6 separate regions of the Homo sapiens genome follow, and regions 2, 3, 4, 5 and 6 are each reported to be linked to region 1. Evidence: microRNA targets listed by miRTarBase, many of them from high-throughput screens and not tested one by one. Region 1 holds a microRNA gene; each other region holds the end of a gene's coding sequence.

Region 1 (5,473 bases):
TGAAACTGCTTACTTAGTGGTGTGTGGTCTAGAACAAGTTACTTAGCCTCTCTGTGTCTCAGCTGTCCCATTTCCTTTTTTTTTTTTTTTTTTTTTGGACACAGGGTCTCTCTCTGTCACCCAGGCTAGAGTGCAGTAGTACGATCATAGCTCACTGCAGCCTCGAACTCCTGGGCTCAAGTGATCCTCTCACCTCAGGCTCCTACTTAGTAGCTGGGACTACCAGCATGTGCCACCATGCCCAGCTAAGTTTTACATTTTTTTGTAGAGATGGCGTCTCACTATGTTCCCTAAGCTGGTCTCCAACTCCTGGCCTCAAGCAGTCTTCCCACCTTAGCATCTCAAAGCACTGGAATTATAGGTGTGATTACAGGTGTGAGCCACTGCACCTGGCTGTCGTCCTGTATTTTATCTGGCAACTCCACTTTGGTGCCATGTGTGGCCTGGCATGATCAAGTGTGTGTAGCTGTGTAGGTCTGGCCCTGTGTAATACCAAGGTGGAGTGTTTCTGTATGGGACTGTGACAGGACATTAGGAGAAGTGCAGGTGGGGGTGACCCTGACCTGCACTGACTTTGAGGCTGCGCACTACAGTGTGGCTCCCTGAGGCTCCAGCAGCTCCCTAAGGGCAGGTGTGAGCTGTTTGCTCAGTGAGGCCCAGCAAGGTATGAGACCCACCCTGGGCAAACACTTAGATCCGGCTCCAGGTGGGACTGGGATGGAACACCTATCGCCACTGTGAAGGACACATCCCTCTCAAGGCCGAGCCAGCCCTGGGGGCCTCAGAGTTCTTGGTGCTGAACCTTTTTTTTCCTTTTTTTTTTTAACTGGAGACAGAGTCTTGCTCTGTCACCCAGGCTGGAGTGCTGTGGCAACATCTCAGCTCACTGCAGCCTTGATCTCCCGGGCTCAAGCCATCCTCTTGCCTCAGCCTTCTGACTAGCTGAGACCTCAGGTGTGCACCACCACGCCCAGCTAATTTTTAAATTTTTAGTAGAGACGGGGTTTCACCATGTTACCCAGCCAGGTCTTGAGCTCTTAGCCTCATGCAGTCTGCCTGCTTTGGCTTCTCTAAGTGCTGGGATTACAGGTGTGAGCCACCGCGCCCGGCCTGCTGCACCCTGAGGGTCTCTGGAACTCCTCCTCCATGTCACTGCTTCCTGGTGACATCACACAGGTCACTGCCTAATCTTCTAGAACAGTGCCAGGACACTGCCTTGTTGCCCTGCACAACCTGTGAATTTGCTCCATCAAAACTGGCAGGCAGGGTTACCCCTGAGGAGGGGGTGGGGGAGAAGGGGTAGGGGTGGGACCCTATCATCTCCCAGAGGGGAGATCAAGGCAGCCATCATCTGTCGAACTAGATGGTGAGTAGGGGTGGGCATCCTGGAGCAAGGCTAGACTTTCAGGCCCCTCACTGTCCAGGACACTGGGCAGGTTGGGGGCCACCGAGGGAGGCTGACTCTTGAGGCTGAGAGAGGGCAGTGACCGTGTTAAGGTCACCGGCAGGCAAGTGGAAGGTGTGGTATGTAATACGGGGTGGGAGGAACAGGACCCTCAGGTTAGGAGCTGAGAGGCCCAGGTTCTTATTCCCTTTTTTTTTTTTTTTTTTTTTTTTTTTGAGACAGAGCCTCGCCCTGTCACCCAGGCTGGAGTGCAGTGGCCCAATCTCTGCTCACTGCAACCTCCGCCTCCCAGGTTCAAGCGATTTTCCTGCCTCAGCCTCCCGAGTAGGCTCCCAGGTGCGTGCCACCACACCTGGCTAATTGTTGTATTTTTAGTAGAGATGGGGTTTCACCATGTTGGCCAGGCTGGTCTTGAACTCCTGACCTCAGGTGATCCACCCGTATCGGCCTCCCAAAGTGCTGGGATTACAGGTGTTAGCCACCACACCCGGCCCCTAGGTTCTTATTTCTGCTTTGTCCCTGCTAGTAGGATCTTTGTTTCTCTATCTGTACAGGGAGGGGGTGGGGCCAGATGCCCTTAGTCTGAGGGGTCTTTAGTTCTGCTGTGGGGAGTTGAGGGGAGTGTTAGGGACCAGGTCATGGGGTGGCTGGCTCCAGGCAGGTGCCCTGACCCCTCCCCCAACAGCCATCAGGGGGTAGTGAACAAAAAGTCTGGTGTGACTCTTTCCAAGTGCTCCCTTCCCCGGTTGCAGGAGTCTAGATCAATCCTGAGTTACTGGAGTCCCCTTAGGGCTTCTGACTTGCTGTGTGATGCAGGGGTGCCCCGTGCCCCCCACAACCTCAGCTGCTCTGTCTGCGAGGGGCACGTGTGAGATCCAGGCCTGCCCAGTGCCCTGTGTAATGATGCCTCACATTCCCACGCCGCTTCTCAGTTTGTCAAGCGCCTTCTCGTACACAGTCTCACCTTCTATGCCCACTCTGGCTCCTGCTCCGTGATGCCCCATTCTGGAACTGGGACCCAGAGAGCAGCCAGACCTGGACTCTGGCCTCGGGGCTCAGAGAGACATCTCAATTCACTTCCTGTGGAGGGGACCATATCTGGGGCAGGGGACTGCAGTGGGCAGAGCAGGGGTCATGCTTTGCCAAAGCTGTTTCCATTGTTTGATCTTCCATGAGAATCAAAACTTGCCAAACCATCATGTAAAGATGTTACCTTAACACTTTTTGTTGGAACCATGCATTTTTGGACAGTGTATTCCTCCCTGCCCCAGTCACCCCCACCAGTTATATTTTTAGTTACTTATCTGGGGGTGAAACTGGCACATATACAACTCTTTTCCCTGCCACAATTCTCAGAGGATAGGTATTATTATTCCAGATGAGGAAACTGGGGCTCAGAGAAGGCCTGTCACCGGCTTCTGGTGACACAGCTAGGAAATCAGAGGGCCAGGATTTGAACCCAGCTCCACAGGCCCTTTGTGCTGCTAGGTTGTGGGTCCTCCCCAGACTCCTCTCCCAGAGCCCCTCCAGCCCTCCTGGGCTCATTCTTCTGCTCTGGAGCAGATGGGGCCCTTCTCGGCTGCTTAGGGGTGTTTTGAGAAGGATATGAATGGGCTTTGTCACGTTTGAGAGGTTTTCATGAGACCCAGAGCCAGAGATACTGAAATTCCTGGGAGGGGTGGCATTTGCAAGGGCAAATTAATGATGAGTAGAATGAGGTGATACCCTTCTACCCACCTGCTGGCGAGGTAGCCTGGCCTAAACCTAGGACCCAGGGGATGAGCCCAGGGCCTGGCTGCCTGCCAGGTCGCCCACCTTTACTGACCCAAGATCCAAAAGATTCTTGGTTCTTCTGTGTTTGGCTCTGAGTGATGGTTTCATTCTTGCCATCTGCACCTCTCTGAGTTTTTATCTCTCTGGCAGCTCTCTAGGGTGGGGAAGTCCTTCTATCAGTCTGCCCTCACTGCTACCTCCTGGCCTTGTCTTTTTTACCCTGGACTGGATGGTGGGTATGAGAGGTTTGCTGCCCTGGTACCTGCTATCTGCTGAGGTGTGTTTTATTGGGGCCCTAAAAAGGCAGGAGCCACCAGGCCAGTGCTGCCACCTCTTTTCCTCGTGGCAGATCCAAGAGGATACAGTTCACAAAGCAAAGCAGGCTTTGGCTCTAATGGGGTCCCCTTTGGGTTTTATCTGATACCCACACTGCCTGAGTGTCCCACCCAGGCAGTGTGGGTATCAAGTAAAACTGCTGAGGCCTGGGGAGGGGCAGTGACCTGCCTAGAGTTAGAGGCAGAGGAGGTAGATAGCAGAGAATCAGAGCCTGGGCATCCTGAGCCCAGAGCCAGCCCCCTGCCACCTACTCATTCCCAGACACTTTTCAGGAGTGTGGTTTAGAAGGGATGGGGTGATTATCTGACTGTGCCTCCCACACTGCAGATGGAAGGCCTGGAGATCTAAGGTCATTCACACAGGCCTCATGAGGACCTGCAGCACATTGTCCAGGATTCACTTTGCAGGATGCCCTTTAGGGTCACTTGCCATCATAGCTCCCCGCTCACCCCCACTCATTTTTAAAATGTGGCCTAATTTACAAACATCTCAGTGCTTTAAGCACTTCAGGAAGAAACACCTCTATTTGTGAAGCACCGTGACAAATCCTCGACTCCTCGTTTTTTTCTTAGCACATTTAAGAAAATCTGTTCCACCCTAGAGCTCTAGGCTGGTGAGGCTAGGAGGCACCTTAGGGTTATCCATTCTGATTCCCTTTTCTGGAAATGGAAAACTAAGGACCAGAGAGGAGGAGGCAGCGGGGCACAGACAGGAACGGAGGTGGGAGGAGGCTGAGATCTGCGTGCTGGTCAGGATGACCGTGGCAGGTTCTTGTTGGGCCCTGTTAGTTGCTCATCCAGAGGAGCTCACCACAGTCACTGCGACAGACTGCCACACTCACCCTGGCCTGGCCTCAGAGAAGTTGAGCTACTGGCCTCAGTTCACACAGAGCAGATGGAGGAAGAGCTGGCACTAGGACCCAGGGGGCAGGGGGGAGCCTCCCTGGCTGGAAGGGATGGCAGGAGCGCTGGTGCAGGTAGCTATGGAGCTCTGGCCAACTCTGCCTGGGGAGGTAAGAGAGCCCAGAGCCCTGGGCCAGATGCTCTTGAGAGCCTAGTCTAGTCCATAGCAGGTGTGCGTGTGTGCGTGCATGTGTGTGTGTGTGTACACGCGCGTTGTGTGCATGCTGAGAAGGGGTGCTGGTGGACAAGGGCCAGAGTGTGGGGCTGGAGGGAGTCCCGGTTCAAGCTCCCAGGTAGGAGTGAGACTGGGGTGGAGATTTTGCCCACATCTGGCCAGCTTGTGAACCTTGAGCCTTGTGGGTTGGATCGGCTTCCTGCTGGGTTTGCACAGCCCAGTGGGAATGGGGTTGGGTGTGTGTAGGCTTGGTGTGCCTCTAGCTTGGTGGGGGATGCAAGCTGTGGGCATCTCTGAGCTGCTGTGGGGCTGTCATCCCTGCGAGTTAGTCTCTTGATTGTCATGGGGGTGTGTGCCCATCTTTGGATCTCTGGGGTATTGCATGGGGGCGTCTCTGGGTTGTTCTGGGGACAGCGTGCCTGTGTGTAAATACTGTAGGTTGTTGCAGAGGTGTGTACCTGTGAGTATGGGAGGTGGTGGAGAGAAGGGGTTCACCGTTAACTTCCAGAATTCCTCTTCTTGCACCTCGTGGCCCTTCCTCGCAGAGCCCACTCTGTCTTGGCATCTCCTCACCCCTTTCCCTGTCCCCGCTGGGGACTTGCCCCTCGCGCGCAGGGTCCCCTCCCAGGGCCGGCGGGGGCGGGCGCTAGGACCCTGCGGGGTGGGGCGGGGCGGGGCTCGGAGATCCGTCAGCTTCACCTCCGCAGCCTGGAAAATCCCGAGCCGCGGCCGCCGAGCCCCCGAGCCCCCGAGCCCCCAGCCTAGCCGGGAGGGGCGCGCGGGGCTGGGGCCCGGGGCGGGGCCGGGCGGCGGGACCCACTGCTCCTCCCACCAGAGCCCCCGCGCGGCCCCGGGTCTCCCGGGCAGCTGCGGCGGCGGCGC
Region 2 (3,000 bases), not on the chromosome of region 1:
AGAAGAAAATAATTGTAATCTTATCACTCAGAGATAAATTATTAACATGACTTTTTCTCTAATGGATATAAGAATAAGGGCACACTTAAGTATTAAAGTTAATACAATGTAAACATATGTTAAAAATATTTCTTGTGTATTTTTAAAGTCCCTGCACTAAAGAATTAGTAGTGGTACATGCCTTGTTCAAAGGTAGTGAAGAGCAATGTTTGTTTGCCTAACATGTCCTAGGTTGGTCTGTTAAATACACTCTCTCATTTAATCTCTGGTTCTCAGGTGATTGTTATGAAGAGGTCTTTGGGTGTTGGCTATGCTGCAGTGGACAATCCAATCTTCTACAAACCTAACACGGCCATGCTTCTAGGTGATGCCAAGAAAACATGTGACGCGCTCCAGGCGAAAGTTAGAGAATCCTATCAGAAGTAAATATTAAGGATCAAGCTGTTAGCTAATAATGCCACCTCTGCAGTTTTGGGAACAGGCAAATAAAGTATCAGTATACATGGTGATGTACATCTGTAGCAAAGCTCTTGGAGAAAATGAAGACTGAAGAAAGCAAAGCAAAAACTGTATAGAGAGATTTTTCAAAAGCAGTAATCCCTCAATTTTAAAAAAGGATTGAAAATTCTAAATGTCTTTCTGTGCATATTTTTTGTGTTAGGAATCAAAAGTATTTTATAAAAGGAGAAAGAACAGCCTCATTTTAGATGTAGTCCTGTTGGATTTTTTATGCCTCCTCAGTAACCAGAAATGTTTTAAAAAACTAAGTGTTTAGGATTTCAAGACAACATTATACATGGCTCTGAAATATCTGACACAATGTAAACATTGCAGGCACCTGCATTTTATGTTTTTTTTTTCAACAAATGTGACTAATTTGAAACTTTTATGAACTTCTGAGCTGTCCCCTTGCAATTCAACCGCAGTTTGAATTAATCATATCAAATCAGTTTTAATTTTTTAAATTGTACTTCAGAGTCTATATTTCAAGGGCACATTTTCTCACTACTATTTTAATACATTAAAGGACTAAATAATCTTTCAGAGATGCTGGAAACAAATCATTTGCTTTATATGTTTCATTAGAATACCAATGAAACATACAACTTGAAAATTAGTAATAGTATTTTTGAAGATCCCATTTCTAATTGGAGATCTCTTTAATTTCGATCAACTTATAATGTGTAGTACTATATTAAGTGCACTTGAGTGGAATTCAACATTTGACTAATAAAATGAGTTCATCATGTTGGCAAGTGATGTGGCAATTATCTCTGGTGACAAAAGAGTAAAATCAAATATTTCTGCCTGTTACAAATATCAAGGAAGACCTGCTACTATGAAATAGATGACATTAATCTGTCTTCACTGTTTATAATACGGATGGATTTTTTTTCAAATCAGTGTGTGTTTTGAGGTCTTATGTAATTGATGACATTTGAGAGAAATGGTGGCTTTTTTTAGCTACCTCTTTGTTCATTTAAGCACCAGTAAAGATCATGTCTTTTTATAGAAGTGTAGATTTTCTTTGTGACTTTGCTATCGTGCCTAAAGCTCTAAATATAGGTGAATGTGTGATGAATACTCAGATTATTTGTCTCTCTATATAATTAGTTTGGTACTAAGTTTCTCAAAAAATTATTAACACATGAAAGACAATCTCTAAACCAGAAAAAGAAGTAGTACAAATTTTGTTACTGTAATGCTCGCGTTTAGTGAGTTTAAAACACACAGTATCTTTTGGTTTTATAATCAGTTTCTATTTTGCTGTGCCTGAGATTAAGATCTGTGTATGTGTGTGTGTGTGTGTGTGCGTTTGTGTGTTAAAGCAGAAAAGACTTTTTTAAAAGTTTTAAGTGATAAATGCAATTTGTTAATTGATCTTAGATCACTAGTAAACTCAGGGCTGAATTATACCATGTATATTCTATTAGAAGAAAGTAAACACCATCTTTATTCCTGCCCTTTTTCTTCTCTCAAAGTAGTTGTAGTTATATCTAGAAAGAAGCAATTTTGATTTCTTGAAAAGGTAGTTCCTGCACTCAGTTTAAACTAAAAATAATCATACTTGGATTTTATTTATTTTTGTCATAGTAAAAATTTTAATTTATATATATTTTTATTTAGTATTATCTTATTCTTTGCTATTTGCCAATCCTTTGTCATCAATTGTGTTAAATGAATTGAAAATTCATGCCCTGTTCATTTTATTTTACTTTATTGGTTAGGATATTTAAAGGATTTTTGTATATATAATTTCTTAAATTAATATTCCAAAAGGTTAGTGGACTTAGATTATAAATTATGGCAAAAATCTAAAAACAACAAAAATGATTTTTATACATTCTATTTCATTATTCCTCTTTTTCCAATAAGTCATACAATTGGTAGATATGACTTATTTTATTTTTGTATTATTCACTATATCTTTATGATATTTAAGTATAAATAATTAAAAAAATTTATTGTACCTTATAGTCTGTCACCAAAAAAAAAAAATTATCTGTAGGTAGTGAAATGCTAATGTTGATTTGTCTTTAAGGGCTTGTTAACTATCCTTTATTTTCTCATTTGTCTTAAATTAGGAGTTTGTGTTTAAATTACTCATCTAAGCAAAAAATGTATATAAATCCCATTACTGGGTATATACCCAAAGGATTATAAATCATGCTGCTATAAAGACACATGCACACGTATGTTTATTGCAGCACTATTCACAATAGCAAAGACTTGGAACCAACCCAAATGTCCATCAATGATAGACTTGATTAAGAAAATGTGCACATATACACCATGGAATACTATGCAGCCATAAAAAAGGATGAGTTCATGTCCTTTGTAGGGACATGGATAAAGCTGGAAACCATCATTCTGAGCAAACTATTGCAAGGACAGAAAACCAAACACTGCATGTTCTCACTCATAGGTGGGAATTGAACAATGAGAACACTTGGACACAAGGTGGGGAACACCACACACCAGGGCCTGTCATGGGGTGGG
Region 3 (5,473 bases), not on the chromosome of region 1:
AAAATAATAACAGTAATAATAATAAAAGGCAGGAGAAGGAAAAAGCTGCCCAGGTAGAGGCAGAAAGCGTGGACAGGTATGAAGAGAATAAGAAGAGTGTGAAGTCATGGAAGAAAGAGACAGGAGAGGTTCAGGAAGTGGGGGAATTCCAAAGAGTCAAGTGCAGAGAAGGCCAGAGAGAATGAGGGCTGGAAGATGACCAGTGGATTCCACACTTGCAGGTAACTTTAGTAGAGTGGTTGATGAGGCAGAAGTCAGACTGCAACCAATTGAGATGTGAATGGGGGAAGGGCAAAGTAATAAATAATGGCCAATAAGCACCAACCAGTCTTTTTAGTGATGTGGCTAAAAGCAGGAAGAAAGCATTTGCGAGGTAGCCATAGGGGACAAGGGGGTCAACAAAGATTTGTATTTGGTGTGGTCTAGATTGGGGTTATGAGAGCTTTAAGCCTGCTTGTTTATAGGCTAAGGGGAAGTTGAAGGGGCGTTTCCTGGAGTGAAGGAGATGGGAGAATCCAGGGTCAAGGGCATAGGTGGACAATTTGGAGTTGAACAGCAAATACACCTTGTTCTCTGAGCCTTTAGGAAAGTTTATAAAAATGGATGTGAGAGCAAACAAGTTTGTCTTGCGTGGCAGCTTCAATTTTCTGAGAAGTATGAGGCATGATTGTCTATGAAATAGAGGGAGAGGCGCAGGAGTTGAGTAAGGAAATTGAGAGGAATGATAAAGGTTTAGATTGAGAAAGGACGCTGACAATGAACAAGAAAAGTTGGGGTGACCCACAGAAGTTGGAGACCCTGAATATCTAGCGGCATCACTCAGCCTAGCTGTGTGATTTTTCTCTAACTCTTCTCAGCCATCTAGATTAGAAAAAAGCCATTCAATAAAATATTTCATTAGCGCTGGGATTGGCTGTGGTGTGGGTGCAGCAGAAAAAGGGTAGAAATGCAAGCAAAATGAGGGGCAAGTGTGAGCCTACTTCATTCAACTCTGCGTTCTGAGCTGGGTAGAAAGGAAGGAGGAGACCTGAGTGGAGCAATAGACCTGAAAACAATGGGTGAATGAGGATTCTGAAGTCTTCATGAAAAGGAAAGCTGTAGTGGGAATCAGAAATTGAGTTGTTCCTGGTGAAGAGGAGGCTCATGGCATTGGCCATGGGTATGAATGGTTGCAGAAGGGTGGACATAAAGATTCTGGGAGTTGTGGCAATAAGGGCAGTGAGAAGTGAGTTTGCTGGGTTGCACATATGGACATGGAAGTCACCCTGGGCAGAAATGGAGTATAGCGAGGGGCCTAAGACTTCAGTGAAGGTGTAGAATGACCAGGAGGTAAATGTATGACAAAAAGGAAAAGGGGCAGAGCCAAATTGTACAAGGGTTTGTATGGAGACTGGAGGGTGAATGGCCTGGATTCAGCATTGGGGATGGAGGAGGAACCAAACTGAGAGAAACATGAGAAACATCCTAAACACAAGGTTTTGGATTTTTAGTTTAGTGCATTTCCTCAAAGTCATATTTGATTCTCTGATGATTTGTTTTCTTATTTTTTGGTGTCTCCTCAGACATTTCGCATTGCGCCCTCAATGTGCATCACTAAACCAGAAGTTGATTTTGCAGTAGAAGTATTTCGTTCTGCCTTAACCCAACACATGGAAAGAAGAGCTAAGTAACATTGTCAGAAATAAATAAAACCACAAGTCTCAAGAATTTGCCACGTATGTTCAAGGGTGAATTTGAAGAATTTCAGAACCACTGGTATCCAGAGAAAGCCTGCAGCTCTCCACAGGAGCTGTAAAAGTCATGGTTGACTGCCTACCAACCATATTTGTTAGCAGAGCCCCTCTTATCTTGAGAACTCCATTCTTCAGGGAAAGGATCTCCCTAGCTCAGAGAATAAATCCTAATTAGTTTATGTTAGGTATGGTAATTTGATTCCCCTTTGCAGTGATTGGTTTATGCATGAATATGTGATGTATTTTTGTCCAGTGAATCTTGAAGAAAAATCTTTTGGTGGAGGTGCCTTCAGGGAAAGTTTTCTTCACCCTCACTCTTCAGTTCAAGAAGAGATGTCTTCTTGTTGCGCTGAGAACACCATATGTTCATGACGAGATTCCTGGCACCATGTCAGCCGGCTTGTAGTCATGAGGACAACCCTTTTTGGTGAGGTTGGAAGATGGATGGAAGCCAAGTGCTTAGTGATGTCAAAGAAGCACTCACTTAAGCATTCCTGGAGCCACCCTACCTCAGGGCCTCTTGATATTTGAGGTAATAAATTCATTGTTCTGTATAAGGCTTTTTTATTTTTCACTGTTACGGTCAAAAGCATACTGAGAAATGAGGCAGAAAATACTCCCAAAGAAAGAACAAGTTCCCTCTCCTTTAACTCCCTTAAAACATCTGTCAGAGCCTTCTTTTCTGGTCCTTACCTACTACCACATCCCACTGTGGTCTGAACCCTTATTACTCCTATTGCAATACTCTCCAAGACCATAATTTCCCAAACTTTAGTCATTAGAATACACAGTTATATAATTTCTCCATAGAGGCACACCATTTGTCTTAGGTTTATTTTTCCTTAATTTGACTTTTTTTTTTTTTTTTTTTTTTTTGAGACGGAGTCTCCCTCTGTCGCCCAGGCTGGAGTGCAGTGGTGCGATCTCAGCTCACTGCAAGCTCTGCCTCCCGGGTTCAGGCCATTCTCCTGCCTCAGCCTCCCTAGTAGTTGGGACTACAGGTGCCCACCACCACGCCCAGCTAATTTTTTGTATTTTTAGTAGAGATGGGGTTTCACTGTAGAGATTGAGCCAGGAAGGTCTCAATCTCCTGACCTCGTGATCTGCCTGCCTCGGCCTCCCAAAGTGCTGGGATTACAGGCGTGAGCCACCTCAGCCAGCCAATTTGACTTTTTTTACCAAGATGTGTAGTAAACTTTCTGTAATTACAATAAATGATAAATCAATCCTACTTGTCGTAAGTAGAAAGTAACCATAAAAACAGAGTGAACAGAAAACAATGTAATTCAGTTTTAGCAAGATGCAAGTTTTTGCAAAGATTCTCAGCCTGAGTCCTGTTCTTTCTTTGTTCAAAAGGGAGATTAGAGAGTACTCAAAATGCCAGGTGAGGTGGCTCATGCCTGTAATCCCAGCACTTTGGAAGGTCAAGGCAGGCGGATCACTTGAGCTCAGGAGTTCAAGACCAGCCTGGCCAACGTGGTGAAACCCTGTCTCTACTACAAATACAAAAATTAGCCAGGTGTGGTGGCGCATACCTGTAATCCCAGCTACTCGGGAGGTTTAAGTTTGAGTTTTATTGTTTCCTTTTCATATTTTACTAAATTCCTAAATTGTGTTTTCAGTGTTCCTCCCTTTTCCGTTATCTTAAAGGAAAAGGAATGTTGGAAGTAGAGGGCTCTGAAGAAGAACTGGAAAGTAAGTATTGACTTTCTTGTTCAATGTCCCTGACCCTGTAATTGTCACCAGTAAAGAGGAGAAGAAGAACATTCCAGGCAGAGTGAACTATAGAAGCAAAGAACTAAGGTGCATGACATGGAAAGAATGGTGGAAACAAAGCTCAAAAAGCTTGTTTGCGGACAAGGAGGCGGTGGTTGCAGTGAGCGGAGATCGTGCCATTGCACTCCAGCCTGGGTCTGTCTCAAAAAAAAAAGAGAGAGAGAGGGTATTTGAAACATGTTAAAAATACACTGGCAAACTGAGACCTTCTCTTGAAGAATACAAATAGAATAGGGTCTGGAGACCTGAAGGGAAATCACTTTCTCAGCATGTGATTGAATGCGTATCAAAAGTTGTGTTTCTGTTTGAAGCTAATTGTCCTCATTTTCTAACCCCCCCACCACCAGGTGTCTGTTCTGCTGACACATCCTACACCTCACTGCCAGATTTGTTTCCATTAAGCATTAACTGAAACATAGCATTCCCTGGCATAAAACCTTCCAGCAGCTTGCCATTAACCCCAGACGAGGTCAAAACCCTTTAACAAGGAGCTCAATGCTGCCTAGTATCCAATATCCAAATAGAGCAAATACTCTAGAAATGTTCTGTTTGGGCACAGTAGAAAGATCATTGGAATAAGAGTCAAATGACCTGAATTCTAAATCCAGTTCTTCCCCTTATTTGCTATAATTGACTTTGGGCCAGCCTTTTAACTTCTTTTTAACCTCGGTTTGTTCCCAAGAGTATAAACTATTTGCCCTTCCTACCTTCCAGAGTTGCCTTGGAAATAAAGTGACCCCGTGGATGTAAAAGTGCTTTGCAAACCAATGACCTAGAGAAATAGAAACTTCTTCCTTTCAAGCCACATTTCTCCTCTTTCCTTCACTACAAAATCTTTCTCAAGAGCAGTTTTTGTGCCTCACTTATACGTCTTTGCCTCCTACCCAAGCCCCAACCACTAGGATTTCATTCCTGTTTCTCATTCCTTGGAAATGCCTTTTCAGAAGGCACCTGGTGACTTCTTTATAATCGAAACTTAATGTTTCCTTTAAACGGTCTTTCTGAACAATTGCTACTTCCTTCGTTAGCTTCTGCAGTGTGGTCCTTCTATCTCGGATGGCTTTCTCAGCCTCTTTTCTGGCAACTCCTCAACTATAACGTTCCGTCCTGAGCTGTCTCTTCTTCCATGCTATACTCTCTCCCTATAGGCAACCTTGTCCACTTCTGAAATTTCACCTATCTTGACTATGCTGAAGACTTCCAAATATTTATCTCTAGTCTCAACCGTTTTTCTGAGCTCTAACCCCAAAATTCTAGCTCTCTGGACTCTGTCATTTAGATGTCACAGGAACACTTCAAATTCAACAGACTTAACACAAACTCTACTAAATACCTCCTCCAAGAATCCCTTCTTTATTAATGGTACCCTTTTAATCTCAGGCTCATAATGATTTAGATCATTTTTCCCCCAAGTTATCTTTCTGCCCTTTATATGACTAAGTCTCATGAATACCTTCTCTGACATAATTTTTTCCAGTATGACCCATTTATACCAAAACTGCCTTAATTTGGACCATCATCTCCCTGAACTATTTAAACTGCCTTCTAACTGGTATCCTGGACCTCTTCCCATCCTTCCTCTACATTGATACCAAAGTCCTTTACTTAACAAATAAATATGATCATGTCTCTTGTCTCTTGAAGCATTTGGGGTTTCCTATTGCCCAGAGAACAAAGTCCAAACTCCAATTATTATGGCATTCCAGAGCCTTCACAATTTGTCTCCAAACAAGCTTTTTGAGATTTATTTCCACCATTCTTTCCATGTCATGCACCTTAGTTCTTTGCTTCTGTAGTTCACTCTGCCTGGAATGTTCTTCTCTTTGCCAGTGAAAATTACAGGGTCAAGGAGATTGAACAAGAAAGTCAACACTTACTTTCCAGTTCTTCTTCAGAGCCCTCTACTTCCAACATTCCTTTTCCTCTAAGATAAAGGAAAAGGGAAGAACACTGAAAACACAATT
Region 4 (5,473 bases), not on the chromosome of region 1:
CGAAGGCCATCTGATTCATAACTTTATTGTCAACATTCTGGTCCATTGTTGGATAGCTCCTGTTAGTGCAATGTTTTCACAGCTAAAGTTGAATTTTCACTGATTGGTTTTGGTCTTGACCTCTGGGATCATGTTGAATTAAAAAAAGAGAAAAGTCCTAAAAATATTGGGGCAAGGCTGGGCACAGTTGGCTCGCTCACGTCTGTAATCTCAGCTCTTTGGGAGGATGAAGTGGGAGGATTGCTTAAGGCTAGGAGTTGGAGACCACCTTGGGCAACATAGCGAGACCCCCGTCTCTACCAGAAAAAAAAAAAAATTAGCCAGGCGTGGTGGTGCATACCTGTAGTCCCAGCTACTCGGGAAGTTTAGGCAGGAGGATTGCTTGAGCCCAGGAGTTTGAGGCTTCAGTGAGCTGTGATCATGCCACTACACTCCAACCTGGGTGACAGAGGAAGACCTTATCTCTAAAAAGTAAAAAAATTAAAAAAAGATATTGGGACAGAGGGCACATAGGCCTGATTTGAGCTCTTTTCTTTTTTAAAATATAAATGGATGCAATAAGTTCATTGGAGCAGCCAATGAATGTACTGATTTGATTCTATAAAATGTACAGATGGGAGAGATGAGAGTTTGAAGAAGCACAGATGGAGAAGTCTTTTCATTTTGTCACTGAGCAGAGACCTGGAGTTACTGAGGGTGTCAAGACCCACAGATGCAAACACAGAGAAGAGTGGTACAGACACATGGCAGGTGGCAGCTGGCAGGGAATGTGTTTCTGCAGGGCTCAGATATATGAGGAAGGACACGCACAAAAGGGCTTGATGAGGATTTCAGCACAAGTCCCTGGTGTCCTCCTGTGGGGACAGAGCTGAGTGTTCAGGGATGGTTGAAGACCCAGTGATGTTTCCAGATGACTGATGCAAGCTGCTCCTGCCACTCCTCAGCCTTAAAGAATGTCACACCCCTACCTGGTTTGCTGAATCAGGCATTGCTGTCTGAAGTCTGTGTGGGGCTAGATCAATTGAGCCATCTTGTACCATTGCTTCTTTTGAAATTACTTTCCCATCACTTTGCAAAATGATATGTTTGTTATTGGGGACCTAAAAATGTAGCTATTCTAACTCTGCTTTTGTGGGTTCTCATATTGAGAGTTTTGTACAGAGCTCTGAGCACAAATTCACATCTAGAGTCCTGCTTTCCAAAGCATCTGCTGGCCTCTGTCACATTTTTTTCAGCCAAAACAGCCTTTCAGGGCCACCAGGTGATGTGGTTAGAGTACTTAGGATAAACCAATAGGACTGTATAATGAGAAGCTAGCTTTGGTCACTAGACTGTTATGTAAAATATTTGAAATTTGTAGGCCTTTCAGCTGCTTGATGAAATTCAAGAATCACTTGATTTAGATGCAAATCGTATGTTTGAAATGTGCACATGGGATTGGTTTTGGCTTTGTATTTTTAGAGGAGTTCTTGTGCCCAGGTAGCCCAGATCCCCACTGGTTGCTGCTGCTAAATCTGGGGGTCTTAGGTAGACAGCCCACTGGCTCCCTCAGCGGAGAGCCTAAGGTAACAGAAAATGTTTTGGTCCACACTCTGCCATTGCACTTGGTGAGATTCACTGGTGGAGGTGCTGATCCTTCCTTGACCAAAGCAGAAAGGACCCAGTTTCCTTAGAGACTTGTGGGCTGTCAGAACCCAACTCAGCCTTCTTCCTACACCATTGTTGTGCTGTGGCCTGCAGAGCCAGGAGAGAACCCAACACCTTCTTTAGCTGAGGATCCTGCTTTCTTCCCCACTGTATCTCACACGGACAGAAGACAAGTTCACTCATTCCTCTTGGGTCCGAGTTCTCTGTAATGGTCCACTTAATGAACAGTGAACCTACTTCTAGAACCATCTTTTGAACAAGAAAACAGTCTTTTGTCAGATAAATACATCAAGGCAAACCTTGAAGACAGCATGAGAAAATCCAGCACTGCTGGACTGGTGCCTTGCAGGCAGGTGGGAAGGAAGGGGAGCCAACTGCCTGTAGTTCCCACCAGCAGTGCCAAATGACCAGCCATCTCCCCAGCCCAGGTGTGCACAGGGCATCATTGTTCAGCCCTTGGGTTTGAGTAGAGGGCTAGGCCATGTTTGTCCAATATGGAGAACAGGGGTTGGCCTTACTCCTCCATATTCCATACTGAATAGCCTTCCTATGAACTAATTCTGGCTGCGTGGCTGAAGAACGTAACTAGATGGTTTGCTATGATGTTGACATGAGAGCCAGCTGAGGCTGAATGGCCAGCGAGGCTCAGTGGACATTGTTTCACACCTCCCCACAAACCATCTCTTGATGCTCCTGCTGGAGATAGACTGTGGGGTGGGATGAACCATAGGGCTGTGCTAGTATGGTATTTTTATATTATCATTAGAAGAGAAGCAGAGGAGGATGGAAGGAAAGGCAAGAGGAGCAAGTCTCTTAATGTGGCACAGTGTTGAAAGGAAGTACATTGTTGCTGACGTTGGTTAAGACTATGATGAAAAGATGTCAGAAGCTGCACTGTGAAAGCAAGGCTGTGACATTTGGAGAAGGTGGTTTGTGTCTGTGGACTAGCTCCCCACTGACCATCTCACAGATCCACCCACTTGTGCTCCCCTGAATCTACCTCCTCTTGGGGTTCGAGTGCAGAACTCTTGCTCTTCATTTTCTTCTTCTTTTCAATCCTGTTATTCTTAACACTGTATTTAACTCCAAGGAATTTTATTTTGAATCACAACTCTAAGATCTCTTGTTTGGAGGGCAGTTTCAATTTATTAATGAACCAGAGAAAACAGCACAAAATGACTGAAAAGCCAAGAAAGATGGGTAGGGGTTCATTCTGCCTGATTCTCCCGTGCATATGGAATAAAGCCTCCCTGAGCTCCATGCCCCTTAGATAAGGGAAGGCTGGTCCTGCAGAGGGAGCACAGTGCTTCTCTGTTTCTATATTGTGGATGGAAAACTCTCTCTCCCCACCCCCCCATGGAAAGTTTCCCTCTGCAGGATCATCAACCTGAACATCTAAGACCTCAAAAACACCTCTTTTTAAAAAAATTATTATTATTATTATTATTTTTTAGAGACAGAGTCTTGCTCTGTTGCCCAGGCTGGAGTACAGTGGCGTGATCTCAGCTCACTGCAGCCTCCATCTCCCAGGTTCAAACAATTCTCCTGCCTCAGCCTCCTGAGTAGCTGGGATTACAGGCGTGTACCACCACGCCTGGCTAATTTTTGTAATTTTAGTAGAGATAGGGTTTCATCATGTTGGCCAGGCTGATCTTGAACTCCGGACCTCAGGCAATCTGCCCACCTCGGCCTCCCAAAGTGCTGGGATTACAGGTGTGAGCCACCATGCCTGGCCAAAAAGACGACTCTTGAAACACATTTTTCCAATTTGCAGCTATACTTTTTCACACCTTTGGATTTCACTTTGTCTGAAGCAGTGCATTTAGAGAGAGATTGCAAACCCAGTCCATTAGATTCTATTGTTCTTTTCTCCTATGCTGCTTAATAGTCTACATCCAGGTTTATCCCCTCACACTCAGAAGACAAAATATTAAGACTTTAAATTAGAGATTCCAAAAGTATGAACATACATCATCTCATCTGGTCCTCACAACAGCCCTGTGAGGCAGGCAGGCAGGCATCATGGTTCCAGAATGCAGAGGACAGAGTCCTAACTGGTTAAGCTGGAAACCAAATCCATGTCCTCTGTCTCCTGGTTTAGTGCTCCTCCCACTCCATGAGATGAACAGCACTCACTGTAATGAACAAAACAGCCTTTCTGCTTAGAATAGATGAAATGTCCTTTGGGCTTGCACACAGGTGATTTTAAGTAGAAACCTTGCTAGAAAGCTTGGAAGAAAAACACACCTGAGCTCAGTTCAGCATCAGAATCAGCATCAGAGGGATGAACAGGAAAGAACATGGACATCTTTGACAAGGGTTTCTGCTTATGTTCTTGATTCTCACCCAGATCATGGTTGAGTGCTGTAACTTTAAAGCAGCAAAGTCCAGTAGGAGGGAAGGCATTTAAAGGACTTTCTCATCTAGCAACTTATTGATTCCTTCACAAATCCTCTTGAGGTTGGGCCTACAGTCTCCATCCAGACTATAGAGGGTGGAGAGGAACTCCACATCGGCAAAGTGGTTAAAGACGTGGTTGATGCGCCCGTGGGTCCTGGGCGTCAGGTGCCGCTGCACCAGTTCATGCACCAGGTCCTTGCACTCATGCAGGAGATTGGAGAGCACGTTCCTATCGAAGGTGTATTCCACCTCATAGAAGCTGACAATGGTCATGGCGGTCTGGTTCAGCTTCTTCCGGAACTTCTCCACAATAACCAGCTCCTCTTGGCTAAACTGGTTGTTCCGGTAGAGGATCCCGATTTTGATCGCCACCTTGATTAAGTCTTTCATGATCTTGTGGGCTTCCTTCTTGTTGTGTGTGTGCTCTTTGGTGACTTTGTAGAGCTCATCAAAGATCTCGCTGCTGGTGTCATCAATCAACATGTTGGCCACAGTTTTGCTGGCTATTTTGCTCAGAATCTTCTTCTGGGCTTGAAGCGCAAGACTCTTTGAACTAAAAACATCAGGACCTATGGTAAAAAAAATATATATAAAAGTTTTAGAAATATAAGAACTGTCTGTTACTTTTCCACAAGTAAAACACACTAACTTGAACTTATGTTCTTAGAGCAAAAACTCATGTCTTTATATTCCCTCGCTCCCTAACTAAACCCCACCCCAGCCTGGTTCCCCCACTTTCCTCTCCACATGATATGCTTTGTTTACCCTTTTTAATCCTCTAAACTGTGCTTATGCTCCTTCCTCTGCTGGAGGTCATCTCCTCTTATCCAGGCCAAATCTTACCTTTTTAAACCTACTTCATTCATAAAGCCTTCCTGATTCTACTAGCTCACAGAGAACACTCTACCACTGCTGTCACGCTGGAAACCATTCAGCTTTGCAAACTATACAGGAGCAAATTATTGCTTAATGGCACGAATGTAGCCCCATTGTCAACCCCATTCCCAGGGCAGACATGGATAGTTGATCATGACAGTCATTTTGACTGAGTCTCAGAACCCACATATCATTGGGTCTAAGAGGTATTCTTTTGCTTTTGAAATATTGAAAATTGGATGGGTCTTTCAGTTACTGTTGCCAGGTAGCTGTTGTGCTGTGGTTGTTATTACCTGTGTGCACATCAATTTACACAAAAGTTGTCAGAGATTTGGGAGAAAGTCAAGAGAAATTTTTGTAAGAAATGTTGCCTCCTGAATACTCTTGATGGCATAGAGAGTTGTACTGTGGGAACACAGACATCAGTAACTCCAAATCAAAGATGCTAGAGATGAGTAGTACTCTGAAGGTGAAGCAGCTTAGGAAAACCAGACCCAATTTATTTTGCTGTTATTTTCTACTTTATGAATGAATGAGAGCAATATATGTT
Region 5 (5,473 bases), not on the chromosome of region 1:
AGGAAACACCTGTCTATCACCAGGCATGGGTCCAGAAAGTGCTCTGGGCAGGGCTTAGTGGGGCAGGTCCTGGTGGTAGGAGGGGCTGCCTAGCCAGGGACCCTGGGGCCCCCCACTGTACTCCAGGCCTACCTCTGTGATGCTGCTGCAGGGGCCTGGGCTGGCATTATGACTCTGGGAGCTTCACCCACGTGAAGACTCACAGCCTCCAGCTGGGCAACATAGTGAAACCCCCATGTCTACCAAAAGTAAAAATATTAAGCGTGGTGGTATGTGCCTGTAGTCCTAGCTACTCCAGAGGCTGAGCTGGGAGGATTGCTTGAGCCCAGAAGGTTGAGGCTGTCCGAAAAAAAAGACTCACAGCCCCTCTCTTTTCCCTGTCCCCCAGAACGCTGCCAAGAAGAGAGACCAGGAGCAAGTGGAGCTGGAAGGCGAGAGCTCCGCACCTCCCCGCAAGGTGGCGCGGACCGACAGCCCAGACATGCACGAGGACACTTAAGACTCTCAACTCCACAGGCGCCTCCTGCCAGGTCTGCTCCTCGGTCGCCCACCCGCCTGCCCGCCATGTGTAAGCACCCCGCCCGCCCGCCTCCCTGCCGGCCCATCCACACCCTGCGTCCACACCACTTCCAACCTCATAGGAGCCGATGTATTTATTTTCCTTGAGTTTTTATTTATGCTGTAACCTGTATCAAGCGTTGGTTAAAGGGGACATCAGACCCAGTAGTGTGATGTTGGTAGATGCTTTTTAAAAAAAACAACATTGTCCCCCCGACCCCCGCCTTCCATCGGGCCAGTTCCCCGATTCCTGCCCCCAGTTCTCCAGAGAACCAGAGTGTGTCTGTGAGAGTCTCTAGCGGGGGCTTTACTGTGGCCGGGCGACAGGGGCGGGCCCGGGGTGGCCTGACCTACCAGGACAGCCGAGTGGCCTTCTCCCCCCCAACACCGGTCCAGGCCATTGAGACTCGGTCTTGTCCCACGCTTCGCCCGGAACTTTCCCATGCCCAGGCCTCACTCAGCGTGCACGCACGTTGGGGAGAAGTCGGCCCTTGGGATCTTTCTCTTGAGTCATTTTATTTTTATCATGGACTAGTGCGTGCTCCGTGTCCACCCCAATAAAAGGGTCTTTCCTACTTGACCTCGCGTCTTTGCTCCACACACCTTGGCTGCAGAGGACGGAGCCCCTGGGAGTCATCCCTGTTGTCACCAAGAGGAGTGAGAAGGGCCCCCCACGCCAGGGGCCCCAGGACCGGCTGGATTCTCTCGTGGGCTTGCTGAGGCCACCATGTTCAAGGCCAAGACCTGCCTGGACCATCCCCTCTGCCTCTCCTGTCAAGGTGACCCCAAGGACAGGTCATTCCTGAGAGACGGTCCATGGTGCCAAGGATGGAGCGGGGTCAGCCCCCTGCCTGGGATACCGCCAAGCAGGGCAGCGCACCTGTCAGACACCGCAGAGATGGCCGGCCTCATCCGGGGGCCTGGGGTCTCTGGCCTCTGCTGCTCCCCTGAGGCATGGTGACAGTACAGACGGCATCTGGCCGGTCTTGCTGTCCTAGGTGGTGGCCTCACCCTTGCTGGGTCATAGAGGAGCTGTACAGAAGGTTGGCACCTGGCAGTTGGCATGTGCCATGGCCGCTCATGGGGACCCCTCTTCCGCCAGCTGGGCTGGGTTTGGGGCTGAGCTTGGGTATGTAGGGGTGTTCGGGCTCTGGGCAGAAGGTTTGTGGCCCTGACCACTGAGCCTGGGGCTGGGGGAACACCGCTTCTCCCCTTATTGCCCCCACTGGTGGTGGTGGGGATCTCAGTTTTCTTTTGTTTTGTTTTGTTTGTTTGTTTGAGTTGGGGTCTTGTACTCTTTCCCAGGCTGGAGTGCAGTGGCGTAATCACAGCTCACTGCAGCCTCGACCTCAAGCCTTCCTCCCACCTCAGCCTTCCAAGCCGCTGGGACCACAGGCACCCACCACCATGCCTGGCTAATTTTTTTTTTTTTTTGAGATGGAGTCTCGCTGTGTCTCCCAGGCTGGAGTGCAGTGGCAAGATCTCAGCTCACTACAACCTCTGCCTCCCAGGTTCAAGTGATTCTCCTACCTCAGCCTCCTGAGTAGCTGGGATTACACGCGTGCGCCCCTACACCCAGCTAATTTTTCTATTTTTAGTGGAGACGGCGTTTTGTCATGTTGGCCAGGCTGGTCTCGAACTCCTGACCTCAGGTGCTTCGCCTGCCTCGGCCTCCCAAAGTGCTGTGACCGCACCTGGCTGCCTGGCTAATATTTTAAAAATTTTTTGTAGAGACAGGGTTTCACCATGTTGCCCAGGCTGGTCTCAAACTCCTGGGCTCAAGTCATCCACCTTCCTCAGCCTCCCAAAGTGCTGGGGTTACAGACGTGAACCACCGTGCCTGGCAGAGGTCTCTGTTTTGAGAGCTGAGTCTGAGGGCGTTGGGATGGTGTAGGGTTGGGCCACAGAGCTAGCAGACACTCCGGGCTATGGAGGGTCCGCCTGCCCCAGATTCCACTGTGGAGGGCCCTGCCTGTGTCAGACCCTCGGGCCTAGGCGGCCCATCTCTCCCAAGGACGGAGAGTGCCAGGGTGGGCTCCCGTCCTACACAAGGAGTGGCTGACCAGGCCCAGGCACAGCACAGCCACCCTGCTGTACCTCCCAGCTCCCGGCAGTGTCTACACCACAGTGATGGTGCTACAGGGGCCATGTGGTCACAGGACAGGTGGTCAGGAAATGCACACTTGACTGCGGTCGATGGTGCCGGGTCCGGCTGAATGCCCTGGAGGCTCCCAGGCCAGCTGGGGAGTCCCAGTCCCCAGGGTTGGTGTGACCTGGGCAGGCCTGCGGTGTCCATCTGTGAATGACTGAGATGGTGGGACTTCAGCTTCCAAGGCCAGGGGCCAGAGTGGGAGCAGGGGGCACTCCCGCCTTTCCCCTCGGCCTGTCTAGACCTCTCTGGCTCCCAGTTTCTGCTTTGAGTGGCTGGGGGCTGTCTCCTGCCTGTGCTGTCTGCCCGTCGCTCTGCAGGGCTGCTGGGCGGGCACCTCCTTCCCCTCCCCTACCTCAGCTCCCTCCTTTGGGGTCTGAGGGCTGTGCCCCAGCTTGCCTCCCTGTGGCCTCCCCCTAGAACCCCTGGGTCTGTCGGGACATGCCCCACCTGGCACACACACCCTGTGTAGCTCCCACTGCCTGTGGGAGGACGCTGGGCCCCTGAGCCGGCCTCTGTCTACCCCTCCTGCCTTTGGGGTCCCCTTTACCCCACTGTTCCCCCAAACTGCCTTCCACCTTCTCCGCCTTTGCACAGGCTGTTCTCCTGCCTCCAGTGAACTCTGACTTCTCCACAGCCTCCCAAAGGGCCCCTTGCTCACACTGGCCCAGCCCTGCAGCATGGCCATGTTGGTCTCTGAGCCTTAAGCCTTTGGATGTGGACACATTTGTCCTCTTCCTGAAAAATGTGAGGGTCTGAGAGGCCACGTTCCTGTTCCTGAGTCATACGACAGAGTCCCAGTGACTTGGGTCTGATGTCTGTCCCACAGTGGGACATCCCTGCTGCATCCCAATGCCACCCCGTGTCCTGGGGACACCCAAATGTGCCATTCTCTCAGTATCACAAGTCGGGGACTGCAGGAGGCTCAGGTGCCAGGTGCCTTCTGATGTTCATGCCACAAGCTCTTCCCACTGTCTCTGGCTCCCCAGACGATGTTCCAGGAGGCGGGTGTGCCAGAAGGGGCCACGTCTTGCAAACCACCGCGCTGTCCTCTTTGAGAAGGAGTCTTACTCAGGACTGGGGCCTGTGCACACATTGTCGCCTCTTTTCAGCACTTAGAGATTCCTTCCTTTGTCTAGTGGCTGAAGCCAGGGCTGAAGTTGGCCTCCAAATCTGGGCCGTCTCAGAGGCGGCGCAGCCTGGAGTTTTCCATCTGTGGCCAAGACCCAGTTTTTGGGAGGAGGCCCTCATGGGTCAAGCCAGCCTGTACCAGGATGGGGGGAGGGGGTTCCCAACCTAGGCCCCAGCCACCCAGACTCCCCCACCCCCACTCCCTTTTCCACTGCTCTGACCTCGGGCACTGTTGAAATATAGTTTTTATTGCATTTCTGCCGTTTTACAAAAATATGACAAAATAAATTAAAAACAAATAAATAATCGCCTGTTCTGTGTGTGTGTGTGTGTGTGTGTGTGTGTGTGTTTTCTGTTGGATTTGTGGGTTTCCTTTCGTTTGGAAAGGAAAACGGCAGATGGGGGGCACCGACCAATACTGGGGGCCCTCGGGGGCTGAAGCGCATTTTGCATTTTGGAGACCGGCCGCCCCTGTGAATGACTGATATTGCATATGAGAAGAGAAGGCAGGGCGGGTAGAGCTAATGCCAGCCGCTGGGCCAGCACACGGCCTGGGGGCTGGGGCTGGGGCTAGGGGAGGGCGCTGGGGTCTCGAGGGGATCCGAGGTGGGCGGTAGCGGTGGGGGCGGGAGGCTGTAAAAGCTGGCGTCTCCCGGCAGGGGCTGGGGGGCGGGTGGGGGCCCGGCCATGGCACAGGGTGGGCACTCGGCAGCGGCCAGGGCCTGGCGGGGGGCGGCACCCTCGCCCCCGCAGCCCCAGGGCCCGTCCCACTGCCAGCAGCCTGCGGGCGGTGTCGGGGGCCGGGGCAGCGGCATTGGCGGCGGCGGCGCGGGGCTCCGGCTGCGGCGGGTGCGGAGGGCAGGGGCGCCCACGGGGGCCAGCGCTGTCCCTGCGGAGGCGAGAGGGGCCGTTCCGGGGGGATGCCGCCCCCGCCGGACCCCGCCGGGCTGGCAACCCTGCCCGCGCTCCCTCCCGGGCATCCAGGCACATAAAGGCCTTATTGCTTCTGATCAGAGACTGAGGTGGGGCGGCCCCCTGGGCGGCTTCCGGTGCATACCCTGCCTCTGGGCACGGCCCTGCCGGTCACAGGGGGAGGACAGTTTGAGGAAGTCCCTCTGGCTTCTGACCTATGGCCCTTGTGCTGCAGCTGCCACCTGTTGGGCTCCCTGGGAATGGGGTTGCTGGAGCCCAGGCTGGGATTGGGGCAGGGGAGGTGGTGGGGGTGGGAGGGTAGGGGTGAGGCCTGCACCTCTGCTCAGCACATGTGGGAGCTCCCTGGGTGGGCAGCCCCAGCCCCACCTCGAGGAAGGCCTTCCTGAACAGCTGGGCTGCAGGGTGTGGATTTGCATAGAGGCCTGGGGGGTCAAGTCCCCCCCAAGAGTGAGCTGGAGCAGGAGAAGGGTGGGCTGGTTGGGAAACAGGCCTCCCTCATCTCTCCTGGCACCGGAGCATGGTGGGGGTCCCTGGGTGCAGTCCTGGGACAAGGGGCTTTGGCATCCCTCCCTGGGGAGGGTCAGGCACGGGGCTCCAGGCTAACAAAGGCCCTGGAGATACTAAGCAGGCTTTAACTGAGAGGCTCCACGTACCACTGACCCAGGTCCCCACCAGGACCTAAGACCGGGCTTCCCCTGTCCC
Region 6 (5,473 bases), not on the chromosome of region 1:
GAGCCCAGGCACAAGGCCCCAGAGTCCCAGAGGAGACTCAGACGGGCCCTAGCCCTTTCGGTCTCCTGTCTTGAGCCAAGGTGGATCGTAGGGCCTGGGGCAGGGTGGGAAGATAACGGGGCAGCAGGCAGCGGGCACTGGCTGCCAGCCAAGGTCCACCTGTGGTGGATGGAGGCATCTTTTTGTCTTGTTGAACCATGAGCCTTTCCCCTGGTTTCCCTCCACTTCTCCACAGCTCAGAGGGAAATTCAGGAACATTCGGGGTTGGCATCTCGGAGCGGGGGAGGAGCTGGAGCTGTGCAGGGGCCTGTCCCTGTGCGGGCTCTCGGAGCACCCTATCCTGGTGTCTGTTCCTCCCGCAGGGCCCTGAGCACCCCAATCCCGGAAAGCCGTTCACTGCCAGAGGGTTTCCCCGCCAGTGCTACCTTCCAGACAACGCCCAGGGCCGCAAGGTGAGTGCCACCATGCGCCCGGGGGGTGGACGGGGCCCTGACCAGGCGGCAGGAGGCCAGGCGCCACACTGGACTCTGCTTCTGCAGCGGAGGACAGAGGCTGAGGCCGGGCCGAGTGTCTGCTGCTCTTTTCTGGGGACCTGCTGTAGGTACAGGGAGGGCAGCCTGGACCTCACATAGCCTCGAGGGAGGAGGAGAGGCCATCACCTTCCAGCACCCTGCCGGGTGGGGTCAGGAGCTCCTGAGAGTCAGAGTGTGACAGGCAGGGACCGGGGGCTGTGTTAGACCAGGTGACCACGGAAGGCTGGAGCAGTGGTGTCTGCACTGAGACATGAATAGGGACTTTGTGGCTGCAGAGAAGGTTGGGGACGAGCCTTCCAGGAAGGCAGGATAGTGGGAGCCCGTGGTGTGGGTGTGAAGACAGGGTGCCCCCCAGGCCAGCACCAGGGGTAGAGCTGGTTCTGAGCGCCCAGCGAAGCCACGGAGGTGGAGCTGCTGATGGAGCTTTGGAAAAGCTCTGGCCGTGTGAGAATGGGCTTGAGGTGGCGGAGCTGGAGGCGGGGAGAGGGCAGGGAGAGGGCAGGGAGGCCTGGATTCCACCAGGGAGGGTGGGTGGGCGGGCGCTCGTCCAGCAACGGCTGTGGAAGCAGGGAGGACTCGAGCATGGTGCCTGGGCATCAGGACCAAACGGATGGCAGTGCCAGGCACTGAGGCGGGGTGGGCTGGAGCCCAGGTTCATGTGGGATCCTAATGTACTATCCAGTGGGCAGTTTTGGGGTCCCTGCAGATGGGGTGAGTGCCAGGGAGTGGATGAGTCACCTGGGAGGGGCTGGGATGGGAAGAACATGGTGCCAACCCGTGCCTGCTCACTGAGCCCCTCTCACTCTCCGTCCCCTCCTTCCTCTTCCCCCTCCTCCTCCCCGGGCAGGTCCTAGAGCTCCTGAAGGTGGCCTGGAAGAGGCGGCTCATCTTCACAGTGGGCACGTCCAGCACCACGGGTGAGACGGACACCGTGGTATGGAACGAGATCCACCACAAGACAGAGATGGACCGCAACATTACGGGCCACGGCTATCCCGACCCCAACTACCTGCAGAACGTGCTGGCTGAGCTGGCTGCCCAGGGGGTGACCGAGGACTGCCTGGAGCAGCAGTGACCTCGCACCCCAGCACGCCCGCCTCTGGTGGCCACCCCGCTGCCCCATGGCTGGCTGGGTGGCCAGGCAGGAAGTGCCCAGCCCGAGAGGCTGGGAGGTTTGTTGAGGGTGTGGGGTGTGCCCCACCTGAAGCCGGGGCTCCCCCTGCCTGCCTCTCTCTCCTCCTCCCCTCTGGGAATTGGGCAGCCCTGGGCAGTTGTACTCATGGGGGCTTAGGATGCAGCTACCTCAGTGCGCAGGGCCCGTCTGTCCTCTGGGGGCTGCTTCGGGCCCGCGGTGCTCGGGGCCTGGTGTGGGGCGAGTAGAGACTTCCCCAGCCTGGACGGGCGTGGGTTCTGGGTCAGCTTCTTTTACCTCAATTTTGTTTGCAATAAATGCTCTATAGCCAAAGCCAGCAGGTCCTGAGTGTGTGCATGCATGCGTGTGTGCGCACTTGTGTGTGTGTGTGCCCCCCCCCACTTCCTGCATCAGAGCAAGAGGGGGTTCCATGGGCTCATCGGCTCCCATTTGATAACTGAAGAACAGGCCACAGCCAGGCATGGAGGAGCCCACGGTACTGGGCTGTGCGGCCTCCACATGCCCTACACTGATCTCCCTGCCATGCCAGAGGCTGTCACCCCAGAGCACCAGCTGTCACCTTTGTGGCCCTGGGGTTGTGGTTCACAAAATGCCATTCACTTAGGATTGGAGCTGCTGTCTCTGTTTTACTGATGTGGAAACAGGTTCAAAGGTGCAATGACTTGAACCAGGCATGGTGACGCATGCCTGTTATCCCAGCTGCTCAGAAGGTCGAGACAGGAGGCTCACTGTAGTCCAGACATTTGAGACCAGCCTGAGCAAAATTGCAAGACCTCATCTCTAAAAAAAAAATTAGGCCAGGTGCAGTGGCTCACGCCTCTAATCCTAGCACTTTTGGGAGGCTGAGACAGGTGGATCACCTGAGGTCAGGAATTTGAGACCAGCTTGGCCAACATGGCAAAACATCGTCTCTACTGAAAATACGAAAATTAGCCAGGCGTGGTGGCATGCAGCTGTAATCCCAGCTACTCAGAAGGCTGAGGCAGGAGAATCATTCGAACCTGGGAGGTGGAGGTTGCAGTGAGCCAAGGTCGTGCCACTGCACTCCAGCCTGAGCCACAGAGCGAGATTCCGTCTCAAAAAAATAAATAAATAAGCCAGGCATGGTGGCACCTGTCTGTAGTCCCAGCGGTCGGGAGGCTGAGGCGGGAGGATCGCTTGAGCCCAGGAGCTCAAGGCTGCAGTGAGCTATGATTGCACCACTGCACTCCAGCCTGGGCAACAGAGCAAGATCCCATCTGTAAAATCATAATAAAAAGAGACAGATTGAATGCTTGGCTAGGTAGGTGGAATCCAGGCCAGGGTTGATCTGACACCATTCTCAAAGTTCTAATTCTTCCTCCTCTTGGAAGGAGGATCAGATATCCCCAGTCAAGATCTTGCTGCTTGTCCGGGAGGAGTAGTTTGGGCCTGGGACCAGAGGGGGACGGTAGGGCCACCTCATTCATGGCTGTGGAAAGCAGAGGCACTTTGGCCTTGGTGAGCCCCTTTCTCTGTTAAACCTATTTTACAACATGTTGGTATAAAGATGAATATATTAATGTATACTAGAGGATTTTCTCTCACCTAAAGGTTCATTTTTTTCCCTTCTGATTTTAAAAGAAATTAAAAATGTATGTCAGCTCTTATAGTGTGGGCCCAGGGCACTGTGCCTAATGGTAAGTTGGTCCAGGGTAAAAAGGGTAGTGAGGTCTCTCTAGAAGACCCCAGTGTTGGCCGGGTACAGTGGCTCAGGCCTGTCATCCCAGCACTTTGGGAGGCTGAGGCGGGAGGATCACAAGGTCAGGAGTTCGAGACCAGCCTGGCCAACGTGGTGAAACCCCCTCTACTAAAAATACAAAAATTAGCTGGGCATGGTGGTGTGCACCTACAATTCCAGCTAACTTGGGAGGCTGAGGCAGGAGAATTGCTTGAACCCGGAAGGCAGAGGTTGCAGTGAGCCGAGATCACGCCACTGTACTCCAGCCTGGCGACAGAGCAAGACTCCGTCTCAAAAAATATATATAAAAACAAAACCATGAGATGCCACACTACACCCATTACGATGGCTATACTAAAACAAAAAGCAGTGTTGGAGAGGATGTCGAGAAATGGGACCCTCATCCACTGCTACTGGGAATGTAAAATGCAGCCACTTTGGCAAACAGAACCTCAGAAAGCAGCATTAGCATATGACCACAGTTCCACTCCTAGGTACATTCTCAAGAGAATTGAAAATGTGCCCACAGAAGCCTGCGCACGGATGCTCATGGCAGCATTATTTACAGTAGCCCCACAGTGGAAAAAAACAAATTCTGCATCCACTGATGAATGAAAGTGTGATACGTTCACAGGATGGAATATTACTCAACTGTGAAAAGGAATGAAGCAATCACAGTCGAGGAGGAACCTTGAAAAAGTAACAAAAGCCAGACACAAAAGGTCACATGTTGTGTGACTGCATCCTATGAAATGTCCATTACGGGCAAAACCATGGAAACAAGAAGTAGCTTAGTCGTCACTGGGGACGGGAGAATGGAGAGTTACCGTTTAATGGGTGTAGTGTTTCGTTTTGGGGAAGTAAGAAGGTTCTGGAATTGGTGATGGTTGCACAACCTTGTTGATATACTAAAAGCTGTTGGGCGCTGTGGCTCATGCCTGTAATCTGGGCACTTTGGGAGGCTGAGGCAGGAGGATCCCTTGAGCCAGGAGTTCAAGACCAGGCTGGGCAACACAGTGAGACCCTGTCTCTACAAGAAATATATTTTTATTATATTTTTTTTGAGACAGAGTCTCACTCTGTCATCCACGCTGTAGTGCGGTGGTGCGATCTCAGCTCACTGCAACCTCCGCCTCCCGGGTTCAAGTCATTCTCCTGCCTCAGCCTCCCGAGTACTTGGGATTACAAGCACGTTCCACCACACCCGGCTAATTTTTGTAATTTTAGTCGAGACAGGGTTTCACCATGTTCGCCAGGCTGGTCTCGAACTCATGACCTCAAGTGACCTGCCCACCTCGGCCTCCCAAAGTGCTGGGATTACCGCCGTAAGTCACTACACCCAGCCTCAAAAACTATATTTTTAAAAATTAGCAGCTGGGCGCAGTGGCTCATGCCTGTAATCCCAGCACTTTGGGAGGCCAAGGCAGGTAGATCGCGAGGTCAGGCGTTCGAGACCAGCCTGGCCAAGTTGGTGAAACCTCATCTCTACTAAAAATACAAAAATTAGCTGGGCATGGTGGTAGGTGCCTGTAGTCCCAGCTACTAGGGAGGCTGAGGCAGAAGAATTGCTTGAACCCAGGAGGTGGAGGTTGCAGTGAGCAGAGATCACGCCATTGCACTCCAGCCTGGGCGACAGGGTGAGACTCCATGTCTCAAAAAAAAAAAAAAATAGCCAGGCACGGTGGCTCACGCCTGTAATCCCAATACTTTAGGAGGCCAAGGCAGGAGATTTGCTTGATCCTCCCAGGAGTTAGAGATCAGCCTGGGCAACATAGCAAGATCCTGTTTCTATAAAAAATACATTTTTAAAAATTGGCCAGCCGGGCGCAGTGGCTCACACCTGCAATCCCAGCGCTTTGGGAGGCTGAGGTGGGTGGATCACCTGAGGTCAGGAGTTCGAGACCAGCCTCACCAACGTGGAGAAACCCTATCTCTACTAAAAATACAAAATTAGACAGGTGTGGTGGCACATGCCTGTAATCCCAGCTACTCAGGAGGCTGAGGCAGGAGAATCACTTGAACCCAGGAGGTGGAGGTTGCGGTGAGCCAAGATCGAGCCATTGTACTCCAGCCTGGGCAACAAGAGTG

What was found. The annotated mature microRNA hsa-miR-4692 reads UCAGGCAGUGUGGGUAUCAGAU and lies in region 1 at 3,594-3,615, opposite strand. An mRNA with a match to its seed (bases 2 to 7 or 8) in the 3' UTR can be bound and repressed. Matches are read on the target gene's strand: a 7mer-m8 pairs with bases 2 to 8, a 7mer-A1 pairs with bases 2 to 7 and ends in A, and an 8mer does both.
Region 2: the mRNA of NNT is a reported target of hsa-miR-4692. Seed matches in the 3' UTR shown: 7mer-m8 at 1,305-1,311 and 7mer-A1 at 1,771-1,777.
Region 3: the mRNA of AGXT2 is a reported target of hsa-miR-4692. The part of its 3' UTR that is shown has no 7-base or 8-base seed match.
Region 4: the mRNA of TNFAIP8L3 is a reported target of hsa-miR-4692. Seed matches in the 3' UTR shown: 7mer-m8 at 3,658-3,664, 7mer-m8 at 3,654-3,660 and 7mer-A1 at 3,315-3,321.
Region 5: miRTarBase lists DDA1 as a target of hsa-miR-4692. Seed matches in the 3' UTR shown: 7mer-m8 at 1,303-1,309, 7mer-m8 at 1,406-1,412, 7mer-m8 at 2,257-2,263, 7mer-m8 at 2,527-2,533, 7mer-m8 at 2,997-3,003 and 7mer-m8 at 3,186-3,192.
Region 6: miRTarBase lists DTX2 as a target of hsa-miR-4692. Seed matches in the 3' UTR shown: 7mer-m8 at 1,753-1,759.

The regions. Positions count from the first base shown.
Region 1 is chr11:72,781,708-72,787,180 of GRCh38, reverse strand. MIR4692 (microRNA 4692) reads right to left here and starts at 3,651; the gene lies at 3,589-3,651. All of the region lies in intron 1 of STARD10 (StAR related lipid transfer domain containing 10), which reads left to right. RefSeq lists enhancers at 1-89, 90-1,088, 4,140-4,842 and silencers at 385-720, 5,191-5,310.
Region 2 is chr5:43,703,979-43,706,978 of GRCh38, forward strand. It overlaps NNT (nicotinamide nucleotide transhydrogenase), which reads left to right. Exons shown (of 22, transcript NM_182977.3): 22 at 277-3,000. The coding sequence ends at 426. Among named protein-coding and RNA genes, the nearest start is that of NNT-AS1, 100 kb to the left of the region's middle. RefSeq lists an enhancer at 2,189-2,358.
Region 3 is chr5:34,994,916-35,000,388 of GRCh38, reverse strand. AGXT2 (alanine--glyoxylate aminotransferase 2) reads left to right here. Exons shown (of 14, transcript NM_031900.4): 14 at 1,563-2,287. The coding sequence ends at 1,670. Among named protein-coding and RNA genes, the nearest start is that of AGXT2, 50 kb to the left of the region's middle.
Region 4 is chr15:51,053,828-51,059,300 of GRCh38, forward strand. TNFAIP8L3 (TNF alpha induced protein 8 like 3) reads right to left here. Exons shown (of 2, transcript NM_001311175.2): 2 at 2,774-4,616. The coding sequence ends at 4,054. The region is part of intron 1 of MIR4713HG (MIR4713 host gene); the gene reads left to right. Among named protein-coding and RNA genes, the nearest start is that of MIR4713HG, 19 kb to the left of the region's middle.
Region 5 is chr19:17,319,158-17,324,630 of GRCh38, forward strand. DDA1 (DET1 and DDB1 associated 1) reads left to right here. Exons shown (of 5, transcript NM_024050.6): 5 at 389-4,141. The coding sequence ends at 499. It overlaps ANO8 (anoctamin 8), which reads right to left. Exons shown (of 18, transcript NM_020959.3): 18 at 4,066-4,727. The coding sequence ends at 4,360. Among named protein-coding and RNA genes, the nearest start is that of DDA1, 12 kb to the left of the region's middle. RefSeq lists enhancers at 2,199-2,815, 4,357-4,406, 5,194-5,473.
Region 6 is chr7:76,503,994-76,509,466 of GRCh38, forward strand. DTX2 (deltex E3 ubiquitin ligase 2) reads left to right here. Exons shown (of 11, transcript NM_001102594.3): 10 at 363-452; 11 at 1,381-1,998. The coding sequence ends at 1,608. It overlaps LOC124901675 (a long non-coding RNA gene), which reads right to left. Exons shown (of 2, transcript XR_007060388.1): 2 at 4,188-5,473. Among named protein-coding and RNA genes, the nearest start is that of UPK3B, 3.8 kb to the right of the region's middle. RefSeq lists a silencer at 4,941-5,146.